Homo sapiens: one gene and its partner. The protein of the gene in region 1 interacts with the protein of each later gene in a biochemical or structural test. Each region holds a gene or a part of one and is shown in the gene's direction. Other genes may lie near its edges.

Evidence for each region.
Region 2: the proteins of PXMP2 (region 1) and PEX19 form a complex in vitro, tested with the Homo sapiens proteins (one study listed by IntAct).

What each region holds. Positions count from the first base shown.
Region 1 is NC_000012.12:132,690,394-132,694,201, forward strand, and holds part of PXMP2 (peroxisomal membrane protein 2), read left to right. Parts: intron 1-3,808. UniProt on the Homo sapiens protein: Seems to be involved in pore-forming activity and may contribute to the unspecific permeability of the peroxisomal membrane.
Region 2 is NC_000001.11:160,278,946-160,282,166, reverse strand, and holds part of PEX19 (peroxisomal biogenesis factor 19), read left to right. Parts: coding exon 1-128; intron 129-1,920; coding exon 1,921-2,097; intron 2,098-2,321; coding exon 2,322-2,366; intron 2,367-2,532; coding exon 2,533-2,616; 3' UTR 2,617-3,221. UniProt on the Homo sapiens protein: Necessary for early peroxisomal biogenesis. Acts both as a cytosolic chaperone and as an import receptor for peroxisomal membrane proteins (PMPs).

The sequences.
Region 1 (3,808 bases):
GGTGGGTTTACCTTGTAGCCGCTGAGTGCAACCAAGCTGGGCACCAAAACCGAGTAGTTGGAGTACTCTTATTTGGAAATATAATTTTTTAAAAACCATTGTAGTAATCATCATGGGAAAAAACTCGAATGGTTCATATAGTTTGTATGGCATATATACGCATACGTGGTTTTTTTTGTTTTTTCTTTTTTTTTGGAGACAGAGTCTCACTCTGTCACCCAGGCTTACTGCAACCTCTGCCTCTCTGGTTCAAGTGATTCTCCTGCCTCAGCCTCTCAAATAGCTGGGATTACAGGCACACACCGCCATGCCCAGCTAATTTTTGTTATTTTTAGTAGAGATGGGGTTTCACCATGTTGGCCAGGCTGGTCTTGAACTCCTGACCTCAAGTGATCCACCTTCCTTGGCCTCCCAAAGTGCTGGGATTACAGTGCTAGGAGTACAGGCTCACATTTGTGGTTTTATCATGTTTCTTTTTAATTGGATGGGTAGGGGTGACTGTCTTAATTGGGCTGAGAGGCAAACCTGAGGACAAGTAACTCAACTTAACCTAAAGTCAGACTTCAGGATTCAAAAACCCTGAAAGCGTCCTAGACTGGGCTCATGGAAAGGGAAAACTGACTCCAATTTGACCAGTTAGTTTCTATTGTTATTTTAATTTTTTTTTTTTTTTTTTGAGACGGAATCTCACTCTGCTGCCCAGACTGGAGTGCGGTGGCGCGATCTTGGCTTACTGCAAGCTCTGCCTCCTGGGTTCACGCCATTCTCCCGACTCAGTCTCCCGAGTAGCTGGGACTACAGGCACCTGCCACCACGCCCGGCTAATTTTTTGTATTTTTAGTAGAGACGGGGTTTCACCATTCACAGGATGGTCTGGATCTCCTGACCTCGTGATCCGCCCACCTTGGCCTCCCAAAGTGCTGGGATTACAGGCGCGAGCCACAGTGCCTGGCCTCTATTGTTATTTTCATAGTGTAAACATCCAGAAAATAAATGCTTCGGTACCCTGAAAAATGTCCAGTTTCTGAACCACTTTCTGAGTTGCAAAAGCACAGTAATTCAAGAGTTTTACCAATTTAATCCACCGTGAGCTCTCGGCCAACAGTAATGTGAAGTATTTTCCAACTACAGTGATGTTTTCTTTAATTCAGAATTCCTGAAGATCATTTTTATACTTCCAAGCTTGCTAACTTGAGTCATCATGGATTTTTCCATACTGTATTTAAAGCAGTAATCCCCCCAAGAGGGGCAGGTGATGAGATCACCTAGCAGGCCTCATCCAAGTACAGTTTTCCCATCCACAGGACTTCAGTCCCCTTCCCCACTGAGAATCCCTGCATAGGCCACATAACCCCCTATGACTGGGTGGGAAAAAACACTGAGAACCACTTATCTAAAGACTGTCAACGTCACAAGTTGAAAGACCCCTCTTTTTGTTGCTGAATTTTATGGAACTGCAGGCCTCTTGTCCCAGTAGATGTGGCAGCTGGTTCCATTCTCTCCCAAACACACAGGGGAATGATTAGTAGCAACGCACACAACCTAGAGTGCTGCACCAGGTCCTGCCCTTGCCAGTTAGTTAGTGAGCTCCCTTGCCAGTTAGTTAGTGAGCACCCTTGCCAGTTAGTTAGTGAGCTCCCTTGCCAGTTAGTGAGCTCCCTGAGCCAGTTAGGTAGTGAGCTCCCTGAGCCAGTTAGTTAGTGAGCGCCCTTGCCAGTTAGTTAGTGAGCTCCCTTAGCCAGTTAGTTAGTGAGCTCCCTTGCCAGTTAGTGAGCTCCCTTAGCCAGTTAGTTAGTGAGCTCCCTTAGCCAGTTAGTTAGTGAGCGCCCTTAGCCAGTTAGTTAGTGAGCTCCCTGAGCCAGTTAGTTAGTGAGCTCCCTTAGCCAGTTAGTTAGTGAGCTCCCTTGCCAGTTAATTAGTGAGCTCCCTTAGCCAGTTAGTTAGTGAGCGCCCTTAGCCAGTTAGTTAGTGAGCTCCCTTGCCAGTTAGTTAGTGAGCTCCCTTAGCCAGTTAATTAGTGAGCTCCCTTAGCCAGTTAGTTAGTGAGCGCCCTTAGCCAGTTAGTTAGTGAGCTCCCTTGCCAGTTAATTAGTGAGCTCCCTTAGCCAGTTAGTTAGTGAGCTCCCTTGCCAGTTAGTTAGTGAGCGCCCTTGCCAGTTAGTTAGTGAGCACCCTTGCCAGTTAGTTAGTGAGCGCCCTTGCCAGTTAGTTAAGTGAGCGCCCTTAGCCAGTTAGATAGTGAGCGCCCTTAGCCAGTTAGTTAGTGAGCGCCCTTAGCCAGTTAGTTAGTGAGCGCCCTTGCCAGTTAGTTAGTGAGCACCCTTGCCAGTTAGTTAGTGAGCTCCCTTAGCCAGTTAGTGAGCTCCCTTAGCTAGTTAGAGAGCTCCCTTGCCAGTTAGTTAGTGAGCTCCCTTAGCCAGTTAGTTAGTGAGCTCCCTTAGCCAGTTAGTGAGCTCCCTTGCCAGTTAGTTAGTGAGCTCCCTTGCCAGTTAGTTAGTGAGCTCCCTTAGTCAGTTAGTTAGTGAGCGCCCTTGCCAGTTAGTGAGCGCCCTTGCCAGTTAGTTAGTGAGCTCCCTTAGCCAGTTAGTGAGCTCCCTTGCCAGTTAGTGAGCGCCCTTGCCAGTTAGTTAAGTGAGCGCCCTTAGCCAGTTAGATAGTGAGCGCCCTTAGCCAGTTAGTTAGTGAGCGCCCTTGCCAGTTAGTTAGTGAGCACCCTTGCCAGTTAGTTAGTGAGCTCCCTTAGCCAGTTAGTGAGCTCCCTTAGTTAGTTAGTGAGCTCCCTTGCCAGTTAGTTAGTGAGCTCCCTTAGCCAGTTAGTTAGTGAGCTCCCTTAGCCAGTTAGTGAGCTCCCTTGCCAGTTAGTGAGTGCCCTTGCCAGTTAGTTAAGTGAGCGCCCTTAGCCAGTTAGATAGTGAGCGCCCTTAGCCAGTTAGTTAGTGAGCGCCCTTGCCAGTTAGTTAGTGAGCACCCTTGCCAGTTAGTTAGTGAGCTCCCTTAGCCAGTTAGTGAGCTCCCTTAGTTAGTTAGTGAGCTCCCTTGCCAGTTAGTTAGTGAGCTCCCTTAGCCAGTTAGTTAGTGAGCTCCCTTAGCCAGTTAGTGAGCTCCCTTGCCAGTTAGTTAGTGAGCTCCCTTGCCAGTTAGTTAGTGAGCTCCCTTAGTCAGTTAGTTAGTGAGCGCCCTTGCCAGTTAGTGAGCGCCCTTGCCAGTTAGTTAGTGAGCGCCCTTGCCAGTCAGTGAGCGCCCTTGCCAGTTAGTGAGCGCCCTTGCCAGTTAGTTAGTGAGCGCCCTTGCCAGTTAGTTAGTGAGCTCCCTTAGCCAGTTAGTTAGTGAGCTCCCTTGCCAGTTAGTTAGTGAGCTCCCTTAGCCAGTTAGTTAGTGAGCGCCCTTGCCAGTTAGTTAGTTAGCTCCCTTAGCCAGTTAGTTAGTGAGCTCCCTTGCCAGTTAGTTAGTGAGCTCCCTTGCCAGTTAGTTAGTGAGCTCCCTTAGCCAGTTAGATAGTGAGCGCCCTTAGCCAGTTAGTGAGCGCCCTTGCCAGTTAGTTAGTGAGCGCCCTTGCCAGTTAGTTAGTGAGCTCCCTTAGCCAGTTAGTGAGCTCCCTTGCCAGTTAGTTAGTGAGCTCCCTTAGCCAGTTAGTTAGTGAGCGCCCTTGCCAGTTAGTTAAGTGAGCGCCCTTAGCCAGTTAGATAGTGAGCGCCCTTAGCCAGTTAGTGAGCGCCCTTGCCAGTTAGTTAGTGAGCGCCCTTGCCAGTTAGTTAGTGAGCTCCCTTAGCCAGTTAGTGAGCTCCCTTAGCTAGTTAGAGAGCTCCCT
Region 2 (3,221 bases), on another chromosome or scaffold:
CCATGGAGGGGCTAGGCATGGACGAAGGGGATGGGGAAGGGAACATCCTCCCCATCATGCAGAGTATTATGCAGAACCTACTCTCCAAGGATGTGCTGTACCCATCACTGAAGGAGATCACAGAAAAGGTTTGTGAACTTCCATTTCTGCTTTTTCTCTTCATTTTCCATCACATCAACTGATGTGGGCTATTTTGTCTACTCAGAGCCTGCAGAAAGAGTAACTCGAGTGTGCTTTTTTTCCTTCTTTATTTATTTGAGGCAGGGAGAGTTGGGGGTTGGGGAGAGTTGTGTCTCTGAGAGAATAAAGCTGTCACACGGTATGTTGGGGTATAAGAGGTATAACGTTTGGGGTCTAAGAGGAAATCCTTCAGTTCTAGTTTTCTATAAACTGGTTCAAGACTCTGGGATTGTTGTCTGATCAATCTTGCATTTCTGACTTCATTTCTCCAGCAAGAATTTGGCTGGGCATGGTGGCTCATGCCTGTAATCCCAGCACCTTGGGAGGCCGAGGCGGGTGGATCACCTGAGGTCAGGAGTTCGAGACCAGCCTGGCCAACATGGTGAAACCCCGTCTGTAGTAAAAATACAAAAATTATCCTGGCGTAGTGGCTCACGCCTGTGATCGCAACTACTCAGGAGGCAGCAGGAGAATCACTTGAACCTGGGAGGCAGAGGTTGCAGTGAGCTGAGATTGTGCCACTGTACTCCGGCCTGGGTGACAGAGCAAGACTCCATCTGAAAAAGAAAAAGAATTAACTGAGGATTTACTTACTGGCTTTGTGATGTGAACAGTGTAAGCGTAGTTTAAATGATGGTCCCTGCCATAAAAGAGCTTATATGTGTGGTTGTATCATTTTGTTTTGAGACAGGGTCTAGCTCCAGTTGGAGCACAGTGGCACGATCTTGGCTCACCACAGCCTCCCCATCCCAGGCTCAAGTGTTTCTCCCATCTCAGCCTCCTGAGTGGCTGGGACTACAGGTGTGTGCCACCATGCTTGGCCAATGTTTTCAAAATTTTTTGTAGAGTTGAGCTCTCACTATATTGCTCAGGCTGGTCTCAAACTCCTGAGCTCAAGTGATCCTCCCACCTCAGCCTCCCAAAATGCTGGGATTACAAGTGTGAGCCACCACACCTGGCTAAAGAGTGTATAGTTTTACTGGAGAGATAAAATACAGGAATAGAAGCTTTTCAGTGACATGGGGAAATGTGGGTAAGTGTGTAATGAATAGTACAGACCACGAGTCAGCAGGCCAAGACCTGGGTGGGACAAATCCAACTCTCTAGCAAATAATGGTTTTTACATTTTTAAGGTCATTTGAAAAAAACTACAAAGAAAATGTGCAATAGCCGAGCGTAGTGGCTCACTCCTATAGTCCCAGCGCTTTGGGAGGCCACGGTGGACAGATTGCTTGAGCCCAGGAGTTTAAGACCAGCTTGAGCAACATGATGAAACCCTGTCTCTACAAAATACAAAAAAATTAGCCAGTCACAGTGGTGCACACTTGTAGACCCAGCTACTTGGGGAGGCTCAGGTGGGAGGATTGCTTGAGCCTGGGGAGATCGAGGCTGCAGTGAGTGGTGATCACACCATCACACTCCAGCCTGGGTGACAGAGTAAAACTCTGTCTCGAAAAAAAAGAAAAAAAAAACACAATAGAGACCATATGTGGCCCTTGAAGCCTAAAATATTCACTGTCTGGCCCTTTACAGAAGCTTACCAATCTCTGGTGACCATAAATGCTAACATGGCCAGGTGATCTGGTTGGAGTCAGTGCCGCTTTTCATGATGAACTTACTTATTTAGCTTTTCGTTTTTCTACGTCCCTTTCCCTTTCACATTTTAATCACATTGTTCTGATTACCCATCCATATCCATTGTTCACTTAATTCTTTTCCACCCATTCTCTCTTTTCTTAGTATCCAGAATGGTTGCAGAGTCATCGGGAATCTCTACCTCCAGAGCAGTTTGAAAAATATCAGGAGCAGCACAGCGTCATGTGCAAAATATGTGAGCAGTTTGAGGCAGAGACCCCCACAGACAGTGAAACCACTCAAAAGGCTCGTTTTGAGATGGTGCTGGATCTTATGCAGCAGGTAAGGCCTCTTGCCTTCTGCCCACTGGTGCTGTCCACTTAGGTGTTCAGTGAAGGAAGTATCTGGGAAGGATGCAATACTGCTAGACCTAGGTGGAGGAGGGATCCTCTCTTGTGATCTCTCTCAGAAGAAATAGAGAGATCATTCATTAGATTCCTCTTCTGGATCCTCTGTTGTTTTCTGGGCTTTTCTCTATTTCATGTTCCATTTTCCTTATTTTCTAGCTACAAGATTTAGGCCATCCTCCAAAAGAGCTGGCTGGAGAGATGGTGAGTATGTCTTATTTTTCCAGATTTTAATTTGAGTCCCCAATTTCCAGAATTCTTTAACCTCTCAGGATTCCACCTAAGGTGAAAATTGTGGCTACTGGGGATGGATCTTCACGTCTGTCCTAAAAAATGAGCAACTATCTGAGTCCCTTCATCTCTTCCCCAGCCTCCTGGCCTCAACTTTGACCTGGATGCCCTCAATCTTTCGGGCCCACCAGGTGCCAGTGGTGAACAGTGTCTGATCATGTGAAACACAACACGTTTTCCTCTCTGAGTCCCAGCTATGGGGAACATCTGGAGTCAGCAGAACCATTGGGACCTGAGGCAGGAGTGTCACCTGCGGGAGAAGTCTGCCCGCTGCCCTCTGTCATCCCATTCAAGATTGTGCCATACCAGCTGAGGTTTTTCCTCTGTCTCTCTAGGAATAGGGTCTGTTTCACAGGCCATTTCTGTGAACCCTACTCCATTGTGGTTTCTGCCACTATCAAAGTTCCAGCTACCTGCAAGGTGAAGGAAGGCATCCCTTTTGGGGCATGCACTTTCTTTCCTTTCTCAAAATAATGTTATATGTGGCCACACTGATGTTCACCTTTACGTCCAGGGTCTTTGTGCCTTGTCTCTACTCCCTCTCTTGGATCTGGGGAGGAGGGGCAGAGACCTGGGACTCTGTATTTCTATAGTTCTCCTGGCAGAGCCTTTGAGAATGGGGAGAAACAGCCTGGGCTGGGGCTACAGGTCTGTCACTATGCTCTCTTGCCTTCAGACAGACCATTCTGAATTCTCTAAAGGGAAAGGGCTTTTGCATCTAATCACAATAGAGTTGAAAGAGAGGCCTTAGGATTCTCCTCTCTCTAG